Homo sapiens: one gene and its partner. The protein of the gene in region 1 interacts with the protein of each later gene in a biochemical or structural test. Each region holds a gene or a part of one and is shown in the gene's direction. Other genes may lie near its edges.

Region 1 (7,021 bases):
AAAAACAAATCAAACAATTGGGTTTGGGGCACATCCAAATAGCTAAACAGGTAAAGACTCCTGGAGGGTGGGTGTTTGGGAGAGGGCATGGAAGCTACCCCTTCCCCACATCCCTTGCCCTGTGCATTGCTTCCATCTGGGTATTCACCTGGATCCTTTGTAATTAACGGGTAAGCATAAGTAAAGTGTTTCCCTGAGCTCTGTGAGCCACTCTATTGAGAATCAAACCAAGGAGGGGGTCTGAGGAACCCCAGTTTATAGCCAGTCAGTCAGAAGCACAGGTCACAGCCTGGGATTTGTGACTGACATCTGAGGGAATTTGGGGCAGCAGTCTTCTGGGACTGAGCCCTTAACCGTTAGATGGATCTCCAGGTGCATAGTGTCAGAATTGAATTGAATTAGAGGATGTCCAACTGGTGTGTGGCGGGAGAGTTGCTTGGTGTATGGGGAAAACTCCCATACATCTGGTGTCTGATGTGTGTTGTGAGACTGTAATAGAAGATAACAGTTTGTTATTTTCTGTTCTTTAGAGTACCCCATGCCAGTTGTGAAAAGGCAGGCATGAGCTAGTTTAGACTTAATACAGACAGACACTCCTGGAGTTTGTACATGGACCCTGTGCAGTTTTACTTTTTTTTTTTGAGATGGAGTTTCGCTCTTGTTGCCCAGGCTAGGGTGCAATGGCGTGATCTTGGCTCACCACAACCTCTGCCTCCTGGGTTCAAGCGATTCTCCTGCCTCAGCCTCCTGAGTAGCTTGGATTACAGGCATGCGCCACCATGCCTGGCTAATTTTGTATTTTTAGTAGAGACGGGGTTTCACCATGTTGGTCAGGCTGGTCTCGAAATTACAACCTCAGGTGATCCGCCCGCCTCGGCCTGGGATTACAGGCGTGAGCCACCACATTTGGCCCAGTTTTACTTTTTAATGTGGGCTGGTGACAAGCAGAAGCATCTGCCTGTATCTGGACTCTCCTCCCAAGAGTTGGTTCGGCACCAGGGCCCATGGTGAGCTCAGTCTTCTGTCTGCCGTCTGTTCTCTGCAGGAGGCCTGCGGCTCACTGACCAGCTGGTTCTCAAGGTCACGCCTGTTGTGTGCATGTAAGAGTGTTGTAGGTGCCTTTGCAGCGATTGCTGGCTGATGGGTGTCTGTCTTTGCCTTTTCTTCAGATTGGACGAGGCCTTGGCCCAGTACTTTGGGAATGGGACAGAGTTGGCCCAGCAAGAAGATATCTACCCAGCCATGCCAGAGCCCATCAGGAAGTGCCCACAGTGCAACAAGGACATGGTCCTTAAGACCAAGAAGAATGGCGGGTGAGTGCGCTGCCTTCTGCCCCCACCTCTGCTCCCCAGCACCTGCGGTGTCAGCCGTAGCTCGAAAGACCCTGCCATTTCACTCCATGGAATCTTTCAAGACAGGCCTGTTGTTGCCAACCTGCAGGCAAGGTGTTGGCCTAAAAGCATAGCAGGGTGGGATCAGGCCTTTGAGGTGTAAAGCACTATGGGAATTCAGAGCAGGTGAGAAACTGAATGATAGTGGGGTTTTTTTGTCCCCTGTGGATAGGACATCATATACCCAATGTGTAACACATGGAGGAGCATGAGCTTCAGATCTAGGTGGGTCTGGGTTCAAATGCCACTTATGCCGCATATAAGTGGTGTGGCCTGAAGCAAGTTACTTACCTGCTCTGAACCCCAATTTCTTCTTTTATAAAATGTCAGTACTTACAAGGCTGTGTTAAGGGTGAGGATTTGGTGAAAATGGTCAGGACTATATAGCACATTGCCTGATGTGTTGTAGATACTCAGCAGATACTACTTTTGTTCTCTCCTAGTTTTAGTTCTGAATGGGGCCTGAAAATCTCAACTCCCTTTTCGCTTTAAATATAGTAGATCTGAGTGGGCAATTTAGCTTCACATCAGGTTGTTGGAGCCAGTGGCTGGCCACTGGAGGAAGTTCACGGGGAAAGACGAGGTGGAGGGGTGGCAGCCATCATTCATCAGGTGCCGTCCCTCACTGGTGTAATGCAGGGTGGTGCTCTGTAAGCATTACCTCATCCCATTCTCCTAACTACCCTGCAAGGCAGGGATTTTTATGCAGCTTAGAGGGCTGAGGTGCTTGCTTGGAGTCAAGCAGCCGTGGTGGGCAGCAGAGTTTGAAACCGGGTTTTCACTGCCTTTTTCCATCCTGCCTGGCCCACCTGGGACTGCTGTGCTCCTTGCTGCTGAATAAGAAAGGAGGTTTCTCAACTCCTCACCTCCAGCCATCATTAACCTGGCTGGCCCAAGTGAAGAGAAGGCCACCCAGGCTCTCAGAAACAAGAGGTCTATGGGCCAGACCTGGAAGCAGGTGTCAGGGCTCGCGTCACTCACAGACAGAAGCCAGTGCCACTCTAGGCTTAGCCCAATGACTGGGCGTATATTTCAGCACTTAATAAATGCTGTCGATGGGTTTTCCTTGCTATCGGTAGGTTATTGGATTAGTACTCATTGGAATATAAGGAGAGAGAATAACTACTTTTGTTTTAGCTCTGAATTCTCCAATTCTCTGAATTGGAGAATTATTATTATTCTTTAGTTATTCGTTTGTTCTTCTGTTATTCTTTTGTAATGCTTCTCTGAGTTACTCCAGAAGGTCAGGAGATTATCTTGTGGGATTTGCCACTCCATGATTTATCTGTTAATTTCCATTTCTGAGATTGTAAATTTCTTATTTAAATGATTGGAGTTCGGGGCTTTTTTTTCCTTCATAGTGTACCCAGGCACACTCATGAGGAATTTGTAAATCACATGCATATTAGCTAGTCAAACCCTAACGTTTCATGACTGCAAGGTGTTGAAAAACATTGGCCAGGAGAGACCGGGATGGGATGGATGGGCAGTGGGTGGGGTGTAGATGTTGCAGGTGAGGCTTTGTCACAAACAGATGGGTTTCCATTCCTGGCTCCCATCCACACATGCATGCATGTCTCTGGGCAGGTTTCCAGGCCACACCAAGCCACTGTTTACTCACATGCAAACTGAGGGGGCCCCTGACACTGCCCAGACTTGGCACGAGGCAGAAAGGCAAGAATGTGTGAGTGCACAGCACAGAGCCCCTGGCGTCAGCTTGGTTGGTTGTTGGTTTTCTAAATAGAAAGCAGGGCCAGCAATAGCTGCTTTGTGCTTTTGGGATGTGAGAAGGCTCATTTTTCCCAATCAATTCAATATGAGTGCTTGTGTATCCAGTTAAGTGTCATCCAGAAAAGGGAATGTTGTCCTCGGGCAGCTGAGGAAAGGCTGCCTTAGCTGATGGCCAACAGCGGAGAGCATCTCCTGCACTCCTATCATCTGACATGGCACTTTGTCCCCAGGTTCTACCTCAGCTGCATGGGTTTCCCAGAGTGTCGCTCAGCTGTGTGGCTTCCTGACTCGGTGCTGGAGGCCAGCAGGGACAGCAGTGTGTGTCCAGTTTGTCAGCCACACCCTGTGTACAGGTGAGCTGGGCACCTGAGTCAGGTGCCTCCTCTGGAGTGTGTACACCATCTTTCCCTTGCTCCTGCCAGAACCCAGAGAGGAGTGTCGGGGATTCCACTCAGGCCCTGCAGGGGCGTAGCTGTGTTCTGCAGCAGCCAGTTCAGCAGGGCTGGTCCAGTTCTGTTGTGTTCCATGCTGTCACTGCTTTGGCAGGTATGACCCTGTTTGGAGTGGGCCATGGGCAAAGAACCATGAAGGGCTCTTTCCCTGCCCTCTCCAGATAGATGATTGCTACACCAGGCTTAGGAAATTATTCACATATTAAATACAACATCCAAGCTTGGGCTACGTAGCAAGACCCCATCTCTTTAAAAAAAAAAATTTTTATTTAAAAAAAAATTTTTTTTAAGACAGTCTCGCTGGGTTGCCCAGGCTGAAGTGCAGTGGCGCAGTCTTGACTCACTGCAACCTCCGCCTTCTGGGTTGAAGTGATTCTTCTGCCTCAGCGTCCTGAGTAGCTGGGATTACAGGCATGCACCACTATGCCTGACCACTTTTTGTATTTTTAGTAGAGACAGGGTTTCACCATGTTGGCCAGGCTGGTCTCGAACTCCTGGCCCCAAGTGATCCACCCACCTTGGCCTCCCAAAGTGCTGGGATTATAGATGTGAGCCACTGCACCTGGCCAAAAAAAATTTTAAATTAGCCAGATGTGGTGACATATGCCTATAGGCCAAGCTGGTCAGGAGGCTGAGGCAGGAGGATCGCTTGATCCTAGAGGTCTAGGCTGTAGTGAGCCATGATTTCACCACTGCTCTCCAGCCTGGAATGACAGAGCCAGACCCTGTCTCTAGAAATAAATGAATAGGCCGAGCCTGGTGGCTCAGGCCTGTAATCCCAGCATTTTGGGAGGCCGAGACAGGCGGATCACGAGGACAGGAGATCGAGACCATCCTGGCTAACATGGTGAGACACTGTCTCTACTAAAAATACAAAAAATGGCCAGGCGTGGTGGCTCACGCCTGTAATCCCAACACTTTGGGAGGCCGAGGTGGGTGGATCACGAGGTCAGGAGATCGAGACCATCCTGGCTAACATGGTGAAACCCCGTCTCTACTAAAAATACAAAAAATCAGCCAGGCGTACTGGTGGGCGCCTGTAGTCCCAGCTACTCGGCAGGCTGAGGCAGGAGAATGGCGTGAACCCAGGAGGCAGAACTTTCAGTGAGCCGAGATTGCACCACTGCACACCAGCCTGGGCGACAGAATGATACTCTGTCTCAAAAAAAAAAATTTTAATAATTTATTTCTAGTAAATGCATTGCATACTACTGTAAATAACTTGTTTTTTAGGGTAATAAAATACCTATTTTCAAAAGCAAAATAATAATGACATTAATGACATTGTTTTACATTTTGCAATTTGTATGTCTGGCTTAATAGAAGAGAGCTGGATTCCCGTATCTGCTTCTGCAGTCAGCCTGCTGAGTCATTGCATGTGCTGGAACCTCCAGGAAACTCCGTTGTATACACATGGAAGAATAAGAGCAAAATAGACATAACCTCTTAGAATTTTTTTTGAGACAGAGTCTTGCTCTGTCACCAGGCTGGAGTGCAGTGGCACAATCTTGGCTCACTGCAACCTCTGACTCCCAGGTTCAAGAGGTTCTCCTGCCTCAGCCTCCCGAGTAGCTGGGACTACAGGCGCGTGCCACCATGCCCAGCTAATTTTTGTATTTTTGGTAGAGATGGGGTTTCACCATGTTGGTCAGGATGGTCTCAATCTCTTGATTTTGTGATCCGCCCGCCTCAGCCTCCCAAAGTGCTGGGATTACAGGTTTGAGCCACCACACCTGGCCTATAAAAGAGTTTTGCACTCTCCTTGAAAGGGCTCAGGCACCCTGGAACCACACTTGGAGAACTGCTGATACAGAGACATGGGACTTCTCAGAGGTGTTTTTATTTTAGTGAATTACTGGGATCTTAGATTTCATCTGCACTGTTTCCCACTGTCCACTCCTGTGATGACTGGTGGGGGCTTGTGGTGGGCTGATAGAGGGCCTCACAGGGGACTTGTGTGGGCTTCCTGATGCATAAGGAATGGTGGAGAGAGGCCTAGGGCTAAAGCAGCCCTCACTGGACTAAGGAGAAGCTGGCATCTGGTTGTTAATGTTTTTTCTCATCTTCTGGCCTCACTAGGTTAAAGTTAAAGTTTAAGCGCGGTAGCCTTCCCCCGACCATGCCTCTGGAGTTTGTTTGCTGCATCGGCGGATGCGACGACACCCTGAGGGAGATCCTGGACCTGAGATTTTCAGGGGGCCCCCCCAGGGCTAGCCAGCCCTCTGGCCGCCTGCAGGCTAACCAGTCCCTGAACAGGATGGACAACAGCCAGCACCCCCAGCCTGCTGACAGCAGACAGACTGGGTCCTCAAAGGCTCTGGCCCAGACCCTCCCACCACCCACGGCTGCTGGTGAAAGCAATTCTGTGACCTGCAACTGTGGCCAGGAGGCTGTGCTGCTCACTGTCCGTAAGGAGGGCCCCAACCGGGGCCGGCAGTTCTTTAAGTGCAACGGAGGTAGCTGCAACTTCTTCCTGTGGGCAGACAGCCCCAATCCGGGAGCAGGAGGGCCTCCTGCCTTGGCATATAGACCCCTGGGCGCCTCCCTGGGATGCCCACCAGGCCCAGGGATCCACCTAGGTGGGTTTGGCAACCCTGGTGATGGCAGTGGTAGTGGCACATCCTGCCTTTGCAGCCAGCCCTCCGTCACACGGACTGTGCAGAAGGATGGACCCAACAAGGGGCGCCAGTTCCACACATGTGCCAAGCCGAGAGAGCAGCAGTGTGGCTTTTTCCAGTGGGTCGATGAGAACACCGCTCCAGGTGAGGCAGGGAGGGGCATGGGAATCCCTGCCTTCAGTTTTCAGGTGTTTACCTCAGAGACTGGGGACAGCAGAAAGAAGGCAAGGCAGGGTCATGGTGGGATTGGGAGGGGCACCTGGGCTGCCTTGCACCTCACTTTTCCTCACTTGATCACTTTCAGCAAGGTGATAATTGTACAGTCCTCATTCCAAATTAAAGGGTAGCTACCAGTAATGGTGTCACTTGCCCTATGCCTGGCACTATGCTAAGTATACTTCCTGTGCATCTTCCATCCTCATTGGGTAAGCATTATGATCACAATTTTACTTATAAGTGAGAAAGGTGAGACCCAGACACATGAAGTGGGTATTGCTCAGGGTCCCATAGCAACAGACACCAGGATGAGTACATAGGCCTTCCCAGTCCCATGGCCATGTGCCCTTGCAGCTGTCGTGACCCTTGGCAGACCATAAGCATCAGCCTCATTTCTTTTTTTTTTTTTTTTTTTTTGGAGACTGAGTTTTGCTCTTGTTGCCCAGACTGGAGTGCAATGGTGCAATCTTGGTTCACTGCAACTTCCACCTCCCAGGTTCAAATGATTCTCCTGCCTCAGCCTCCCAGGTAGCTGGGATTACAGGCATGCACCACCACGCACAGCTAATTTTGTATTTTTAGTAGAGACGGGGGTTTCACCCTGTTGGTTAGG
Region 2 (7,538 bases), on another chromosome or scaffold:
TAAATAGCTAAAATGGTAAGTTTAATGGCTTTAATATGGCAAAGTTTAGTGCTTGAAATGAATTAACTAAAATATATACAGCTGTATCTTGTGATGTGAAAGCAAAAGAGGCCAATTCCTCTTGTATATACTTATGAAAAGTCACATGGTAAAACTGTTGGAAAGTGACTGATTTTTACTGAAATCAAAGTGAGTATGGGAATCTAAAATGTATCCAGAAGATACATTAAATTGTGATGTTTCATTTTATAAGTGAGTGCAACTAGCATTCTTTTAAATTATAGGTTCTTCAGGTGATTTCAAATATAATAGGGCCCTCTGGCACTGGCTCATCTGTCATTCATAGGTTATTTTAGTATTCCGTAGGATGCAAATGGCTTACAGTCACAAGATGTAATTTGCCTCAGAGGGCCAGGCACTCTTATCATCTCACTTTTTATTGTAGCTTCTATTCTTACTTACCCATATTCTTTTACCCTTTTCAGTCTGAGAAACTTTTCCTTTACTAAAATGATAAGAGGCGAAACAGAGGAGAATGGATTTTCAGTCTCTCTCTTCTGTTAATTTACCACAGACTCGAAATAGATTTCATTCCTCGTTTTTGTTTTCTTGGACCTAACAATTTTTTTTTCTACCCTTAGGGTTTCCCCCAACTTCAGCTCATTGTAGACTTTCTATTTTCTGTAAATCAATGATTTATCTAATTAAAAATGGAAATTCATTTTATCTAGTTAGCTATTACCATTTTTCATGGCACTAAATTATCTATACAGAACATAATTCCAATTTAAAATTTTGATGTGAAATTAGTGTAATCCACGCTTCTTTTTATTTTGGAAAATTTCAAACCTAGAGAAAAAAAATAAACATGTGGACCCTCCTCCAACTGATTCACCCATTTTTAATATTTTGCCATATTTACCTCCTTTCTCTTTTTTCCTTTTTTTTTTTGAGACGGAGGCCCGCTCTGTCGCCAGGCTGGAGTGCAGTGGCGCGATCTGGGCTCACTGCAACTTCCGCCGCCTGGGTTCAAGCGACTCTCCTGCCTCAGCCTCCTTTCTCTTTCTTACCTATATACATGTATCAATGTTTATATGTTTTATATATTTTACAAATGTATTTCTCTTACTCATTTGCAAATAACTTGTAGATCCAATTCTTCTTCATCCATAAATGTTTTGACATAAAATTCTCAATTTAAGGACAATAACATTATCACATTTAAGAAAACCATATTCCATTATACTATCCAATATCCAGTCCAGATTCAAATTTCTGCAATTGGCCACCAGTAATTATTTTTTTCATTTATTTTTTAGATCCAGGATTGAATTTTGTTTTCATGTCTCTTGCATCTCTTAAATCTGAAATAATATTTTTTTTTTTTTTGAGACAGAGTCTCGCTCTGTCGCCTAGGCTGGAGTGCAATGGCGCGATCTCGGCTCACTGCCAGCTCGGCCTCCGGGGTTCCCGCCATTCTCCTGCCTCAGCCTCCGGAGTAACTGGGACTACAGGAGCCTGCCACCGCGCCCGGCTAATTTTTTTTTTTTTTGGTATTTTTAGTGGAGTCGGGGTTTCACCGTGTTAGCCAGGATGGTTTCGATCTCCCGATCTCGTGATCCGCCCGCCTTGGCCTCCCAAAGTGCTGGGATTACAGGCGTGAGCCCCTGCGCCCAGCCTTCTTTTTTTTTTTCTAAAGAATTATTTCTGGCCGGGCGAGGTGGCTCACGCCTGTGATCCCAGCACTTTGGGAGGCGAGGCGTGCGGATCACGAGGTCACAAGATCCAGACCATCCTGGCAAACACGGTGAAACCCGGTCTTTACTAAAAATACAAAAAATTAGCCAGGCGCGGTAGCAGGCTCCTGTAGTCCCAGCTACTCGGGAAGCTGAGGCAGGAGAATCGCTTGAACCGGGAGGCCGAGGTTGCAGTGAGCCGAGATCGTGCCACTGCACTCCAGCCTGGGCGGCAGAGCGAGACTCCCGTCTCAAAAAAAAAAAAGTCTTAAATTACATTTTAACAGTCTAGGCCAGAGGAGAATATGCCTCATTGTGGATTTATGTGCCTGCGTCTTCATGTTTAACTTGCTCAAATATCACCTATACGTCCTTTACATTTCTTCTTACATCTAGACCTTAGCATTACTGACATTCTGGGCCACATCATTCTTTGGAGTTCAGCGATGTCCTGTGCTTTGTAGGATATTTAGCAGCATTCCTGCTGCATCCCATGAGATGCATAACAACACTCCTACCTCCTCAGATTGTGACAACCTAGACATTGCTAAATGGATTTGGGGGTGTGGGGGTTGGTTTAGGATCCACTGTCCACAAGCTTGGTTAAACTCAGGTTAAACCATTTTGGCAAGAATACTTCTTAAGTGATGTGTATGTCTAGTTGCATTACATCAGTAAGCAGAATACATTAGATTGTCCCATTATTAGTGATTCTAGCTTTGATCTCTTAAGGCAGTGATTTTTTTTTTTAAAAGGTAAAGCTACATTTTCCCTTCTGTAATAAGTAAGTTATGGCTTGAAACTTTGAGACCATGTGAAGATCCTGTACTCCTAGTCTTTTACCCTGTGGCTTTTAGTATCGTCTGATAAATTTTCCTCTATCAATTGTGGTTGACTTGGAAAACTGTGATTTTTCTAATTCTATCATTTGTTCTACATTTACTATCTTGTATTGCTCTGAAAGAAAAGATTTTGTCCTCCTTCATTTTTGGTGGCACTCCGAAGAAATTCAATGTGTTTCATCAATTATTGTCACCATTTTTTGGATGCTCATGTTGTCCCACATTTCTCCAGTAAAAAACCCATTCTTTAAGAGAATTTAGTGTTTTGTGGAGTACTTTATTATTGTAAGGACCATGCAGTGGTAAATCCTTACTGAATCACACGACATGTGAGAACAAATGACTTTATAACCAGTGAGAAATTCTGATGATTGGTACAACATATTTTCATAGTTAACAGGTTACACTAACTGAAAAATGTAAATAATTGGTAACAGAAAATTCTAACCGCCAATAAAAATTATTGGCAATTTATTTTTGAGTCATCTATTTACCTTTAAAATGGCATATCTATTCCTGGCTCCTGTATATGATGGCCGATGACTATAAATTGAAATATACCTGTAGCATACGTATGACTTAAACACTGCATACTACTGCACATTGCAGCGAACAGGATGGAGCTACTTGTGATCTAAAATTATCTAAACAATATACTTGGGAGCAAATCTCAATAGCATTCCATCTAACGAAAGCATCGCGATTTTATAACTATGACTTTTGGGAAGACCAAACGGAATACCCCAGCTGAAATGAGAAAAATCTGTATTAAGGAATTTTAGCTCCACCCAGGGCAATTATCCCCTTCCTTCCGTAACTGCCAATTTCCTCCCCAATCCCAAGAGCGCCTCTGCCCAGTTCCGCAGTCTCTGCTCCAAGTCTGTTTTTGATGATGCCCTTAGAAGCAGGGGCAGCGGCAAGCGGCGGAGATAGGGATTAAGTTCCTAACAGTCTTCTTCCCCTGACCTGGCAGATGGGGACGCTGCCCCTTAGAAGCCTTTTTCCCCGCAATACGGGACGCCGCAGAGGTGAAAGACCAAGAAGGTGGAGCAAACTTTTAGGGAGCGCCTCTTGGGCCCGCGTACCCTTCCGCCTGTTCCTCTCTGATTGGCCAGCGTGAGTCACGGACGCCCAATCGCGCGGTAGCGTCCGCCGTGCCGCTGGGCGACGGCGGCGCGCATGCCCACTCAGGGACCCACCCTGCGCCCCAGCCCTCTACAGCGCGGGCGAAGGGCATCGGCGGGGAAGCGGCTGTGGTTGCCAGATCTGGCAGTACAGAGCCAAGGTGGCAGGGCCGCGCTAGGACACGGATGGTCCCAGGGGGAGGGCAACAGGAAAAACAAGCACTGACACAACTGCCCCATTTCCCCATGTCCCCTAAAAGCAGGTTTTCTTGGGCTGACCAGGGCATTTTCACTGTGGTGTCCGACTGGGGCAACTCGATCTGCCCGCGGGGACTCAAAAAAGCTTGAGCTGCATTTTTTCTTTGCGTCCGGGCGGACCAAAAGGCGAGGTGAAGGGAACGAGTGTTTATAAGAAAGTAAACTTTTGTGCAGAATGGGCTGGGGACACCTCTGAGTTTTGCTGCCCGCAACGTGACCTTTTTAGCGCGGTCCTGGACGCGTTCCCTCGCAGCCAACCCGTCAGTCTCCTCAGGCCTTATCCTGCCCTCTCTGAGGTGGCCGCCTGTGGGCGCTGCAAACGCCACACTTTTGCTCTACGAAGAACCTCCTCGCGACTTTCCAAGGTGTGCAACTCAGAAAAGCGCCCCCCAAAACAAGTAAAAGCCTTCGGGGAAGAGGCAAAGTCCCTGAACCGTCCTGACTCCAGCCACCAGCCGGTGTTTGGTGGATCAGGTCCCGGAGCTCCGCAGCCTGGGAGCCCCACACCAGGCCGGCCCCTACGGCCGCTCAGAAAACGCGGCGAGCGGAACCCGCACGCGGAAGCGCCGGCCGCACTGAGCATGCCCAGTTGCAGAGCCGACCAGAGGAGTTTTTTCTTTTCTTTTCTTTTTTTTTTTTTAAGGGGGGGGGTCTCAAGTAGGAGGCCTCCCCATCACCCCCACCCCAGCCCCCCACCACCCCCGGCCTAAGCAGCTACCATGGCCCAGGTGGCCGGCGCGGCGTTGTCCCAGGCGGGTTGGTAAGTGGCGAGTCCCGCCGGCTGCCGGGCCGCGGGTGCGGGCCGGGGCCCCAGGGAGGTTGGGTTGGGGGCGGCGGGGTGCGTGTCGGGGTAGGCGGAGGCTGTCGTCCGCCCCCGGCCTCTCCCCGGGCCCTTCGGGCCGGCTCCGCCCCCGGCGCCACGCGGAGCCCTGCGAGTTCCCCTAGGTCCCCTGGAGGCGGCGGCGGCGGCGGCCTGGGCCCCGGGCGGCGGGCCTGGGCCCCGGGCGGCGGGCGGCGGGCCTGGGGAGAGGCCGGGGGCCGCGAGCCGGGCGGGTGGCGGCCCAGACCCCGGCCGACCGGAGCGCCGGGGAGGACCTGCAGCGCCGTCCGCGCGGCTTCTCCGGGGAGGGGGTGTTTCTGCAGCGGGATCGGGAGGCGAGGGCTGGGAACGAAGTGCGGCGGAGAGGGACGAACGCGGCCGGAGCCCGCGGGCCCATAGGAAGTTGAGGGCAGAGCAGAGCACAGCCCGCGCTGCGGCCGGAGCCGCCTCTTCTTACCCCTTATTTCAAAGTACAGTGTGGACCAGTGTGAATCTGCCTTCCGCGGCACACACACAACTTCTGGAGCTAAGAATGACCGCAATGTCAACTCGTGGGGGTGCTCGGTAGAACTTTTCTTGAAAGGATGGTGTTCTGATTTTAAGAGGCCTTTCGTGTCAAGATTTTCAGGATTTGAAAACAATACAAAATTATGCGAAATTAGGCAGTTTCTGGAATTGCGGCCATTACGGTTGTAATCATCCCGTTTAATTCAGTAACGCTTTTCCCAGGCTTGCACAGGCACATTCTGGGATGAAGGGTAGGAACGGGGATGAAAAAGATTTGCAACGGCTCTCTGCAATTACTGCTTTAGGAGAAAGAGTGAGGCATTAAAAGACCAAACAAAACCAGGGGGAATAGTGATAAACCGTACGTACAGAGGAACAGATGAGTGCACTGTGGAATGGGAGGGAGAGTTACTTTCCTAAAGTGGACTTGGAAAGATGGTAAGGAAAAGGCTTTCTAGCACAGAGCTGCTGGAGATGACACAGGGAAGCGCTTATTGTTTTGCAGAACCTACACAAGATCTATATGGTTCGTGAAAGATGTGGATTTGATTTTGTGAATAAAGTTTTTGATCAGTAGAGGGATATAATCACAACTGTGCTTTGAAGAAGCCCCTCCTGATTTTAAAGGCACTTGTGTTATTATACACCCCATTTTACAGGTGAGGAGACTGAGGCAAAGAGCTGTTAAGTAACTTTCCCAAAATGACATAGCTAGAAAGTGGTGGAGTTGAATGTTGAGCACAGAGGGCCTGGCTCTGGGCCTGGTTCCTTTAACGCTTATGCGTTATTGTTGTTACAGTTTTTTCGCAGAACAGCATGGGCGTAAAAGATTGTAGAGTTAAAAACACTGTCTTCAGTTTTGTTTCTGTTCAATAGGAATCTCTTCTTTCAGTTTTTTTACCCACAAGGGTGTCCTGAATAATCTTGGATCCCTCTTTCATTTGCCTTTCTCCCCATTTCTCATTAGGTTGAGCGTTGATCCTTCACACTAGTAATATTTTCATTTACAAACTCAGTATTTTACTGCTTTCCAACATGACCCCCCCTCCTTTGGAAAGATTAGTCTCATTTTTTAGGTCCCGAACACGTGTTGACTTTGTTTTCTCTGGCCTCTTATGCTTTTCCAGGGCAGGGAAGTGAGTCTTATTTTTCTCCTTATCTGGATTGTCAAGAAATGCACCAGATTGTAGGTTCTCTGTAAAGTCTAATACAGTTGACCTTGGAATGCCCCTGCCAGTCAGAATTCTCTGGGCAGGGCCTCTGCAGAAGCTTAGGTAGAGTCCCACCCTGCTTCGTTATATTGTTATAAATCTTCAGCAATGTTATATTGTAGCATTTGCTACTTTATATTGCAACTTAACTGTTTATGTTTCTCCCACCTGTCTGTGCTGCTTCTGTATGGCAGTGACTCATAAAGGCAGTAGTAATCTGCGGGGCTAAAAACACTATCTTTCTAGGAATTGTGAGTTTCATGTAATTCCTGCTAGGTCTCGAACAGACTAGGCATGAGGATCTCCTAGGCTTTCAGGTGGCTTCTACTAGGTCTTTAATTGGGGACTTACTATGTTAAAATTTAGAATCACAAAGGTTTAAAGGCAGAAAAGAGCACTGGAGGGAAAATTTCTGACTGAAGGGCTTTCACCAACTCATTTTAGTTCTTATATCCTGAGTTTGCTCTTACACTTGGGGTTCTCTGTTAACTGTCACTGACAAACCATTTTTCTTAGTATTCAAATCTATGTACTTAGTTACTTGTAGAAGCTAAAAAGAAGTAGATGCTAAAACATGGACACACTATTGTTAAATCTGTTCTATAGGCTTCACCTAAAATAGCAGATTAGGGAAATATTTAGTGCTGAAAAGTTTACAATTCTGAAAATGTGATCTTCAGGGGGGTACAGAAGATCTATGTAGACCAATCTGTTCAAGTTTACATTATTTTTAAGCGCAGTTTTTTTCCTTCTTAAGGTTTTAATCTTCATTAGAACCCCTATAAAAATCAGTATTTTAAAATATAACTTCAAAAGTAGCTACCTGGCGGACTTAAAATAATTTTTGTTCTTCAATGGCCAGTAGCACACAAACTATTAGATTTTGCTGATTTGAACTTGAATGTTCCAGGGCTTTCTACAGAGTAGTGATAATGTTTAAATAATGCACTAAATGGTACCTTGTAAAGCTTAATTATATGCATGGAATAACTTCACGGGGAGAAGAAATTTGACTCTGAATTTATCTAGATAACAATTTT

The links.
Region 2: the proteins of TOP3A (region 1) and TDRD3 are reported together in a solved structure, tested with the Homo sapiens proteins (one study listed by BioGRID).

What each region holds. Positions count from the first base shown.
Region 1 is NC_000017.11:18,276,990-18,284,010, reverse strand, and holds part of TOP3A (DNA topoisomerase 3-alpha), read left to right. Parts: intron 1-1,169; coding exon 1,170-1,313; intron 1,314-3,352; coding exon 3,353-3,475; intron 3,476-5,653; coding exon 5,654-6,336; intron 6,337-7,021. UniProt on the Homo sapiens protein: Releases the supercoiling and torsional tension of DNA introduced during the DNA replication and transcription by transiently cleaving and rejoining one strand of the DNA duplex.
Region 2 is NC_000013.11:60,392,686-60,400,223, forward strand, and holds the start of TDRD3 (tudor domain-containing protein 3), read left to right. Parts: upstream 1-4,534; 5' UTR 4,535-4,679; coding exon 4,680-4,720; intron 4,721-7,538. UniProt on the Homo sapiens protein: Scaffolding protein that specifically recognizes and binds dimethylarginine-containing proteins. Plays a role in the regulation of translation of target mRNAs by binding Arg/Gly-rich motifs (GAR) in dimethylarginine-containing proteins.